2 separate regions of the Homo sapiens genome follow, and region 2 is linked to region 1. The links come from fine-mapping of genetic effects on gene expression. A gene starts in region 1. The other region holds a variant in brackets. All regions are shown on one strand. Distances are from middle to middle.

Region 1 (5,355 bases):
GGTCTCGGTGGGAGACCTGAGACCTGAGAGGAAGTAGGGGGATGGGCCGAACTCATGGGCACAGCTTCCTCTGGGGCATCCTCTGAGACCCCGGGGGCGAGAGGAGGACAGGTAACTCCTCCCAGGGCAGGTGCTTGCTGCCTGAGCCTGAGTGGTCTGGGAGACTGAAGCAGCAGCTGCCTTCAAACAGACTCCACACCTGGTGCCCGGGCAGTGTCAGCTGTGGGGCACCTTCCAAGGGGAGGACTCCCGGGGACCACCCAGGCCCATGGCCTCCTGCTCAGCCCCTTGAGCCCCTGAGTCCAGCCCTGCCCCTGCCACTGAGGCCATGCCTGGCCCGGGGCTCGCTGCCTCCTCTGCCCTCTCCCCATCAATAGGCTCATCCTGAGGCCCAGCCTGCCCAGCCCTGTGCCAGGTGTCCGGTTCACATGAATGCTGATAGAGCGAGCACCGTGGCCAGGCACAGGCACTTCTCCCAGGAACCCCCCATGGCGCCTGGTTCAGGTCAGACACAGGGAGAGACCTTGGGCAGGAGACAGGGCGTGAGCTGAGGGACAGGGGAGAGGCGGGGGTTGGGGGGTGGCAAATCCAGGCTGCCACGTGTTCCGAGAACTTCCACAAACTCCAAGCCCTGCCCACTGGTCAACAGTGACACCTCTGCGTCAGGGATCAGCCATGGTAGGCACTGCCCAGGTACCCACCCTTGGCTCAGTGCACCACTGCTGTCCCTTCAGACCTGGCCATCACAGCCATTCCCACCTTACAGATGACAAAACAGGCATGGAGAGCCAGTCACAGAAGGGCCCCTCAGCAAACCAGAGGTGGCCCCAGGGCAAACCCCTGCTCCTAACTGTGCAGAGCATTTGACCCCCACCCTCAGGCTGAGCGCGCCTCTCCAGAAGCCGGAGCGAGGCGGTGTCCCCATGCCCACTTCCAGCCTAGGACAGCTCCAGGCCCCAGGGCTCAGGACGACTAGAAATCATGACGCCCTGAGGCCGCACCAGGGAAGGTGAAGGCTGGGGAGGGTGAGCAACAAGGCCAGCCCCCTCCCTTGGGGCACTCAGGTAGAAGGGGTGACCTCTGCTCGCTCAAGGCCATGCCACCCCCTTCCTGCCAGCCTGGACCCGGCCATCCTGCCCATGTGTCACCCCCATCACCCTGCTTTTCCTGGCCGCCATGCCCACACTAGTCTCCCCAGAGCAAGATTTCACATGTGCAGAACGGATCTCAGAGAGGCTGGGTGAGTAGTCCGAGGCCACACAGCACAGAGGCTGGAAGGCTGCAGCTGCCAAGAAATCCCCCAGCCACGCTCCCGAGTGTCAGGGAGATGGGGGAAGAGCTGGGCTCCAGAGGAGGCGGCTCTTCCTGGCACTCAAGCAGGCTCCTGGGCCGGGTGCCCCCTGCCCTGCCCGCATCTGCCTGGTGCGGAAGGTCAGGGGCCCAGGCAGCCCACAGTCTGTGCCCACAGCCTCCACTCTCAGGCCCTGCACTATCGGGCGTCTCTGCCCCCTGTACCACCACAACTGCCGTCACCTCTATGGAGACTGGCACCAGTTCCTGCGATGAACAAGGAGCCGGCCCGGCAGCGGGGCAGGGCCTGGCAACTGAGGTGAGACCCCCATGTCAGGTGCTAGCACTGCCCCAGATGCTGAGTGACACACAAGCCAACTGCCAGAGCCACAAGCGTGGGCCCCTCCCCTCTGGGTGCCCCCCCACAGACACAAGCAGCCTCAGAAGGAACCAGCTCGCTCCAATTCGGGGATGGCAAGGAGCCAGCCACATGCTGTAGGAAGCTTGGGCCCTGGGGGTCTCTGTCCCAGCACCACCACTCCAGCACAGACAGCCAAGTGCTCACCAAGCACTGAGCCCACCCGGGCCTGCCACAGGTACTGTCGGCCCATGTCATAGATGGGAAAACCGAGGTTCACAGAGGCAAGGCCAGGCAGAGGGACTGCAGCACAGGACAGCCAGGCTTGGAAGGCTGGGCTAAGTTTAGCGGGAGGGCAGGAGACCCCTCTCTCCTCCCTAACCCTCTCATGGGGGCTGGTGCAGAGCCTAGACCCAGCCCCTTAATCCGAAGGAGGGTCTCCTTCCTCACCAGCACCAGCACCTTGGGCAGCCCCTCCTGGTAGGTGGGCCCCAGAGCCCAGCAGGTGCCTGCAGCTCTGGCCCAGCATCTTGCAGAGGAGAGACGCCCCTTGCCTCCAACAACTTCTTTTCCTCTAAGTCATTAAACGGACACATTAGAATTATTCAGATCACAGCTGTTTACCCAGAGAAGGGCAGAGCCGGTGCTGCTCGAAGGCGGGGGAAAGGGCCTCTCATGGCCAAGGACAAGGCTGGGCCCCGAGGCAGGGTATGGGCCGAGGGTCCTCTCTGTTCTGGGGGCAGAAAGGACCAAGCACCGTGGGCCACGCCTGGCATGGAGATGTGATGAGGACCTGCCCCAAGCCTCCTCCACCCCCTGCCCTTGGGCCGGGGAGACATTACAGCTGTTGCCGTGGCTGTTGGGCTCTGAGCCTTCACCTGCCCACCCCACAGGGACTTCCGAGCCCCAGGGGTCACTACAGGAAGTCATTTCTGAGCAAGTGACACCCACAGCCCTAAGCCCAGCAGACAGACCTCCCACCAGCTCCCTTCCTCCAGGGAGCAAATGCCTTCAGACCGAGATCTGCCCCGGGGACCCCCGTGCCTCCCTGCCAGGCTGCGTGCACTGGGCCCTGCTCCAGGGAAGGAGACACAGGAGATCACGTCACATGCAAACAGGCTTTGTTTGGGCTGGCTCAGCCTGGTGCCAGAGCCCCAGTGACGTGTGGGTGGGACTTGGCCCTGGGGCCATGGATGGCACAGGGCAGGGGGATTATCTCCCACTCAGGCCAAGCAGGGGCCGGATCTGGAGAAGCAGAGGTTTTAGAAAGCCCACTGCTTCCTGGTGACAGATGGGGCTTCCAGCTGTCCCCAGCCCCCTCTGCCTATCCCAGCTGTCCACCACAGCCAGGAGGCCAGGCAGCCATGGGTAATCTCGCCCTGCCCGGTGCACTGGCCATACGGGGTAAGAGGCCTGGCCTCAGGTCCCCTGCAGCCAGCTTGACAGCGTCACCTCGGGCCCCCACTGTCAGGGGATCTGGGCACCCACCAAGGCCCCTCTCTTCTGAGCCTCTGCCCACTGGGCTCTGTAATGTGGACTGGCCCCTGCTCCCCCCACATCCCCCGCCGGCTGCTGGTGGCTGGGCAGGGCTCTGAGAATCGCTCCCAGCCTGGGAAGAAGCCTCCCACGCCAGGGCCCCGGACCCAGGAGAGGCCATGGAAAGCCTGAACCCCAGCTGGCTGACACCCCCCACACCCCCAAGGGCCCTTAGTCTGAGACCAACTCTCCTGGACACCAGGGGCCCACGCAGGCCCTCCGTGCCCCAGTTACCTGTGCCCTGGAGGCAGCCACGGAGTCACGACCACGCGGGGGACGCCAGCCCACAGGCGGAGGCCGGTTTGTGCTGGGGCCCAGGGCCTGCCCCTCCGAGATCTGGGGCCGCCAGGGGGTCCGGCTGCTTCTGCTGCTGGGCTCGGGGCGGGGAAAGGGTTAATTTCCATGCAAACCGGGAGCCGTGGGGCCCAGGGGCATCACGTCCGCAGCGGAGGGAGGCAGCGGCGCGCAGGCCGGGCCGCCAGGGACTCACCGGGGTCGAAGTGCGAGCTGAAGGCGAAGCTGGGGTTGAAGAAGGACGACGACATGGCCGGGCCAGCGGCCGGCGGGCATCCCGGGAGGGCGCTGCGCTCAGGACGCCCGCGGCCCCGGCCCGAGCCGCCGCATCACCCAGCGGCCGCCGCAGGTGCGGAGCGCGCCGGCCCCCGCGCCCCGCGCCCCCCGCCGCAGCCGCAGAGCCCGCACCGGTGGGGGCGGCGGCGACAGACGAGGCGCTCCGCCCGGCCCTGGCGCCGCGGGGCTCCGCTGGTGCAGTCCGAAAACGCGGGCGGGAGCGCGCGCGGAGCGGCGCGGGGGAGGGGGGGGCCCTCCGCGGCCGGGGTGGCATGGGGGGAGCACGGAGAGGGGGACACGGAGGGGGAGACAGAGGGGAGCACGGAGTGGGGGACACAGAAGGGGGCTTGGAGGGGGGACACGGAGGGGAGGCATGGAGGAGGGGGGACGGGGGGCCGTGCACGGAGCGGGGATGGCACGGAGTGGGGGGATGGTCCGGAGCGGGAAGCACGGCGGCCTGGGGCTGAGGGGGGCACGGAGGCTGGCGGGGGGGGGGGAAACGGAAGTCGTGAATGGTAAGTCGTGAGTGGGTACGGAGGGAACGCCGGGGTGGGGGAGGGGGTACTCCTAGGTGGAAAGGTTCAGGGAGACAGGTGGGGGAACCCGGGAGCACACCCAGGGCGGGTCTTGGTGCTCAGGGGCCCTCGCCTCACTTGCAGGTTTCGAGGCGGCTGGCAGCCGCCCCCCCACCCCATGCCCTTTGGGTGGCACCTGTGCTGGTGGAGTGGGGGTGGCTGGCTTTGCACACAGGCCTGCTCCTGTACCGTGCTGCGACAGCCATGAAGGAAGAACCTGGCTGAGTCTCCACCTGCCGTGGACTGTACCAGGTGCTTAGGGCAGCAGGTTGGCCTGGGCGCTGAGGGGCCATCCCTTCCCCTATGTTTCTCCCAGGATCCCCCATCCCCGCCCAAAGTGCCACCTTGCAGGGTTGGGGCGGGGCAGGGTCCCCCCAGCCTGCCCCCGTGGGAGTCGGGAGAGTTAAAGTTCAGTGGAAGCTGGTCCCAGTGGCTCATGCCTGTAATCCCAGCACTTTGGGAGGCCAGGGCAGGCGGGTGGCTTGTGCTCAGGGGTTCCAGACCAGCCTGGGCAACATAGCAAGACACTTTCTCTACAAAAATTAGAAAAATGAGCCAGGCATGGTGGCGCTCACCTGTAGTCTCAGCTACTTGGGAGGCTGAGGTGGGAGGATCACTTGAGCCTGGGAGTTAGAGGCCGCAGTGAGCCAAGATGGCACCACTGCACTCCAGCCCGGGTGACAACAAGATCTTGTCTCAAAAAAAGTGTCCTGGAGACTTGCAGTTGAGTTTGATGCACCCTCATCCACTCATTCATTCACTCACTCATTCATTCACTCACTCATTCATTCACTCACTCATTCTGGGACCAGATGGCTAAGCCCCTTGGCAAGGCCCAGTTGGGGTTGGGGGCTGTGGAGCAGGTGAGAGGCGCCCACTCCAACAGGGCTCTTAGGACTTTAGGGAGAGAAAGGAGCCTGTTCCCGGCAGAGGGACCTGCAGAGACCAGGACAGGATGCTTGGGCCACGGGGCAGATGGGCACCAGGACCCACCCTTCTTTTCCTAAGGGGGTCCCTCATGTAGGA
Region 2 (5,355 bases), 26 kb after region 1:
GCCCCTCCTGGGGGAAAGCAAGCCTCAGGCAGGGTGTTGGAGCAGGCCTGGGTAGCCAGCAGCACCTCTGTTCCACAGGGGGCTTCCCAGGACCCCAGGCAGCTGCTGCGGCCAGGGAGGTCCTAGCCATGCTGCAGGTAGGAAGACAGGCTCGGGGGCGATGGGTCTACCCGGTGCAGACGCCGGGACACTGTGGTGTGGCAGCCTGAGCGACCCCAAAGCCCGGTCCCAGGATAGTGCGGCCTGCTTGGAGACCCTTGTCTGCCACCAAGCGTTCAGGCGCGGCTTTGGACCTCCCATCCCAGTGAGATGGCATCCAACACTCACTTCCTGGTCAGTGTAGACGGAGGTGGAGGGAGGGCTGCCCCCCTGAGGATTTGGGGCAGGTTCTGAACTGACCAGGCCAAGCTGACCTGGGCTGAGAACCAGGCTGGGTGTGAAGAGATGCTCTGGGCCAGTGGTACCCTCTCCTGCCTGGGACCTTCCCCAGTGCCCCCATCCTCATGGGTGGGCCCTGTCCATCCCCATTTCTTGAGAGCTCCAGACTGTCACACCTTGACAGCGGGGAGGGTAGGGCTTCCTGTCCCTCTGGAGTCTCTCCAGCCATAGGAGCACGCTGGCAGCCATGGGCTTCCAGCACCTGCAGGGCCACGGCGGGGCCCTCGGAGCTCCTCCCAGGGGGTGAGTTCTGCTGAGTTCCTCCTGCGCCTGGCCAGGAACGGGGTAGGGAATTCCCTGTGCTTGGGACTTCCAGGGTCCAGGGCAAGGCAGGGAACAGGAACTTGGGGGTTGGGTTGAATGCTGGGGAGCTGAGGGCTGAGTGCAGGGGGGCTGCTGGCTGAGTGCTGGGGGCTGCTGGCTGAGTGTTGAGGGCTGCTAGCTGGGGGGCTGATGGCCAAGCTTCGTGATTTCCTGGTCAGCCTGCTCAGGCTGCGGAGGGGAGTGGGAGGAAGAGAGCCAAACCCACGCCTGGCTGCTCTGGGGGTCTTGGGCAGCCTCTAGCCCAGGAGAGAAGACAAGGCAGTCACTCAAGGCGCTGAAAACAACGGCCTCCTTTACTGTTAAAATGCAGCCACAGGTGCTTAGCCGTGGGCATCTCAACCACCAGCCTCTGTGGGGGGCAGGTGGGCGTCCCTGTGGGCCTCTGGGCCCACGTCCAGCCTCTGTCCTCTGCCTTCCGTTCTTCGACAGTGTTCCCGGCATCCCTGGTCACTTGGTACTTGGCGTGGGCCTCCTGTGCTGCTCCAGCAGCTCCTCCAGGTGGTCGGCCCGCTTCACCGCAGCCTGCAGCACACCCACAGGGTCAGGCCTGCTCCCAGCCCCGAGGTCCAGCAGGGCTGGCCACAGGGACTCACCTCATGTTGTGTCCGGAGGCTGCTCACGGCCTCCTCCTTCCTCGCGAGGGCTGTCTTCACCCTGTGGGTAGTACATGGTAGGCTTCAGTGTGGCCCCCGCCCCATGTCCCCAGAGTGGCCTGCAGTGCACAGGGTGCACGGGGCAGCCGCCTGGTCAGCCTGGTCCCAGCCCTGCTGACCACGACTCCTGTGGCTGGCCCAGACAGCTGTCCAGGCAACCCACCTGCTGTGAGTCAGGACCCAACACAGGCCACTGGAGTATGACCCTGGCCACACCTGGGGAGGCCTGGTACCCAGATGGGGTGGGACACCTCGCCCACACCCACCTCTCAGCCTGTGGCAGCAGATGGCACAGGAAGGATGCAGGACCCCCGTGGAGGGAGCTCGCTGGGAACCTTACAGTGCCCCAGCTCTTTCAGCGCCTGTCCACCCAGCCCAGGGCCCCGGGAGCTGACTCCCTGGAGAACTCGCCAGGCCCAGACCCGACCCACTCGGGTGCCCCAACAGGGATGGCCGACACCCTAGACTAAGCACCAGGGAGGAAAACAGATCTAGGTCTCCTGGGCCCCAAACATGGAACCCACACCAGCCTCTGTCTACAGGGCCCTGTCTCTGCATCTCCTGGCCTTCCTCAGCCACAGCCTCCTGGGGCTTGGAGCTGCAGAGGTCCTGCCCGCTCCCCTGCCCCGCCTCCGTCTCCAGCCCTGCAGCCCCCGCCGCCCACCTCCGGTGCACCTCCTCCAGCTCCAGCTGCTGGCGGGCCTGCAGCGTGG[C/T]CAGCTCGGCCTTGGCCTGCCGCGTCTCCTCCTCAGAGGCTGCCAGCCGGTCCTCGAACTCCTGGCGGATCACCTGGGCCAGGTTGCTGCGCTCGCTAGAAAGCTGCTCGTTCACCTGGGTGGGCACAGAAGGCAGTGAGCCGGCTGCCAGCGACTGGCTGCGTGCATGCAGGAGGGGCCTGTGGGTGCCCACTGCCCACCTGACACCCGCCCACTCACCGCCTGCGCATCCTCCAGCGCCCGCTCCTTCTGCCGCACAAGGCCCTGCAGACGCAGATTCTCGCCCTCGGCCTCCCCAAGCTGGCCCTTCAGCTCCGAGCACCGCTCCTGAAGCTTCCGCTCCGACTGCTCCAGCTCGGAGAGCTCGGCCTCGTACTTGTCCCGTAAGCGCTTGATGCTGGAGGTGGGGGGAGGGCAGGGTCACTCCAGCCCAGTCACACACGGGTCCTTGCGCCTCAGCTCGTGGGCCTCCCCAGCTGGTGACCCAGCCATGGCGGGTCCTTACCGGCTCTCGGCAGCCTTCTCACTCTCCTCCTTGGCCAGCGCCATGTCGGCCTCCAGCCGGTGAATGACCAGCTCAATCTCCTTGTCCCGGCCTTTCCGGATTTCTTCCCTCAGCTCCTGTTCCCGGTTCAGCAGCCACGCCTCCTGGGGGGACATGCGCTGCCTGGGGGTTGCCACCCGGAGCCGGCCCGCGGGGCCAGGGCCAGCCTCAGGGGGTCCTGGGGGGCTCCAGGCTCTGAGCCACAGGGGAGCAAGGGGCCTTCCCCCTCTCCAGACCCCTGTCCAGGGGTGCGCTACGTCCTGTTGTCAGGACCCAGTGTGGGCATAGGCGTACCAGAGATCGTCATGATGCACAGCCCACGGTCCCCTCCCTCAGAGACCCACAGCCCATGACAACCTGAGGCCACCTTCTGCTACCAGATGGGATGGGAAAGTTGGACTTGCGTGTTGCTGAGGGCGGGGCCTGGGCCCCCAAGCCCAGGCATTCAGAGCCTAAGCTGGCAGCCTCCTGGAAGCCTCTGAAAACTCCCAGAGTTTCATCTGTCCAGCCCTGGGCCCCACAGGGCTACGTCGGGAGCATGCTACTGGGCCCAGAGGCATCCACTGCCAAAGCCTGCCTGGCTGCTCGGTGACATCCCAGCCCACCAGGGTGTGAAACCAGGTGACGGGCACGGTCAGCCTGGACTGTAGCCTCGCGGCGGGCATGGGTGGTGAGAATGTGTGTGGGACTGTCACCGTGGCAGAGTCCACCCCCCACAGAAGGCCCCAGAGGCTAAGGGGGGAGCCCCTGTTGTGCGTGTCCCTCTCGGTACATCTGAGTGTCAGTGGGCTGGTCGTGGGGCGCAGGGGTGTAGCAGCCCCTAGCGAGAGGGGCAACGCCTGTTCTCGGACCACAGAGGATGCGCTCCAGGCACCCTTGATCCTTCCAGAGCCCACGCAAAAGATGGGCTGAAAGCAACACACTCAGCGTCAGTTCAGACAACAACCCCAAGCAGCCAGATGTGACTCCCAGAAACGAGCCCCCAGGATGCCACAGCAGCAGCAAAACCCACCTGGGGCAGCCCCCAACTCCTGCCCACGCAGGGCAGCCCCCAACCCCTGCCCACCTGGGTGCCCAGGCCCCCACCTCCTTCCTGGTGCGGCCGGCCTCCCACGCCTGCCTCTCCAGCTCCAGCTGCTGCTTCAGGGTATTCAGCTCCATCTGGGGGGCGGACATAAGAGGCCAGTCAGTCCCACCCCGTGCAGCCCCCTGGCCAGGCCCAGCACAGCCCTCCGGTGGTAGACCTGGTGCCGGCGCTCCTGCTCCTCCCTGCCCTTCTCAAACTCAGCCCTCAGGGCTCGGGTCAGTGCAGAGCTGCTCTCCTCCAGCTGCTGCCTCAGCTCTTCCAGCTCCGCCCGCTGCCTGCGGCCAGGGAGGAGTCAGCAGGTGAGGGGTCATCGAGTAAGGAGTCAGGGATGGGAGAGGTCAGCGGGTGAGGGGGCGGGGGGGAGGGGTCAGCCAGCGAGGGGTCCCTGGGAGAGGGCGTGGTGCCCCCGGGCGGCACCTGGCTGCCTGCTGGCCCAGCCGCTCCCTCTCCTCAGCCACCTCACTGTACAGCCGCTGCCGTTGCTGCTGCAGCGCCCACTGCTCCTGCTCCAGGTGCTGCTGGAACCTGCGGGACGGTCAGGACTGGCTCTCGGGGGCCGGGACGGGCGGTCCCAGGACCCACCCACCGCAGGGGCACGGGCCGACCACAGGCCTGACTCACAGCTGGAGAGCAGCCCTCCGGGGCCCTGCCCCTCCCCCTCGGCAGTCAAGGCCCCTCAAAGCCACCGCCCGGGGGCAGGCAAGGCCACGAGGAACTTGCCCATCAGCCAAGCGCAGCAATTCCCTGAGCTCCAGGCCCTCGTGGCACTTTGGGAAGTGGCTGTGGAGCCGCGTCCAGGCCCCCTTTTCCCTCAGCCCGTGTGCCGGCCTCACCCTGTTCAGCATTGCCCCACGGGCATGGAGGGCGGGAGGCAGGTGCCTCGTGGGGCCTTATCCACCTCCCCTGCCTCCGGCCTGAGGGTGCCAGGTGCCTGGCTCCGTGACCTGAGCAAGCTCGCGCCAGGGCCTCGTCCTGACCCCACCTTCGAGGAGAGACTGGGGGACCAGCCAAGCTGCATCTGGGGAGGACCAGCCACGACAGGCAACAGGGTGGATAGGAGAGGGTGGCTTCCAGGCTGTCCTGGTGGCGCAGACAGTGCAGGAGGGGCTGCCACTGCCCCCTGTGGCCCGCAGATCCTGACCACCACTGGGCACGTCCCCAGCCCCCAGGGCTCAGGACGCAAGAGCAGCAGTCACCCCTCAGACCCCAGGCCAAGGGAGTGAATGAGAGAGACCGTCCCTGGGCCCCAAGGTCAGAGCTGGAGGGGCCTCGAGGCCGCCTATCCACGGGTTGCTGCTCTGGGGCCAGTTGTGAAAGAGTGGATGTCTGGTGGGGGTTCCCAGCCCTGACCCTGGGAAAACACCCGTGCACCCATGCAGAACCTGCAGACCTCGGCGGGCATGAACTGCAGACACAAGCCCGAGGACACTGGCCCGGCTGAGGCTGGGCCCCCAAGGGCCACTCCAGGGCCAAGGGCCCTGCGTCCTCCCTGCATGCTGCACTAAGACCCTCGCCCACCTCTACATGGGAACTCCACTCCAGCCTTCGAGGATTCCGACTCCCCGCCCTGAGGGTCCTGGCCCCACCGGCCTGGGG

Alleles and levels. Alleles are on the strand shown, and positions count from the first base shown. SD is a standard deviation of normalised expression in the study named.
In carriers of allele T in region 2, the expression in prefrontal cortex of the gene that starts at base 3,244 in region 1 tends to be lower than with C alone (large effect, 0.86 SD a copy in GTEx).

The links. PIP is the estimated chance that this variant, and not a neighbour inherited with it, causes the effect.
Region 2: its variant is fine-mapped to the expression of PVALEF in prefrontal cortex (GTEx, PIP 0.99). The same link has a PIP of 0.9 or more in cerebellum.

Annotation. Positions count from the first base shown.
Region 1 is chr17:81,162,264-81,167,618 of GRCh38, forward strand. It overlaps PVALEF (parvalbumin like EF-hand containing), which reads left to right and starts at 3,244. Exons shown (of 7, transcript NM_001354639.2): 1 at 3,244-3,484; 2 at 4,414-4,581. It overlaps AATK (apoptosis associated tyrosine kinase), which reads right to left and starts at 3,958. Exons shown (of 14, transcript NM_001080395.3): 1 at 3,675-3,958. The coding sequence starts at 3,729. RefSeq lists enhancers at 2,012-2,755, 2,756-3,499.
Region 2 is chr17:81,188,560-81,193,914 of GRCh38, forward strand. CEP131 (centrosomal protein 131) reads right to left here. Exons shown (of 26, transcript NM_014984.4): 19 at 4,177-4,284; 20 at 3,917-4,034; 21 at 3,759-3,833; 22 at 2,634-2,776; 23 at 2,348-2,525; 24 at 2,080-2,243; 25 at 1,356-1,416; 26 at 1,037-1,284. The coding sequence ends at 1,210. Among named protein-coding and RNA genes, the nearest start is that of AATK, 25 kb to the left of the region's middle. RefSeq lists an enhancer at 4,360-5,077. The variant C/T (reference allele first, on the strand shown) is at 2,129.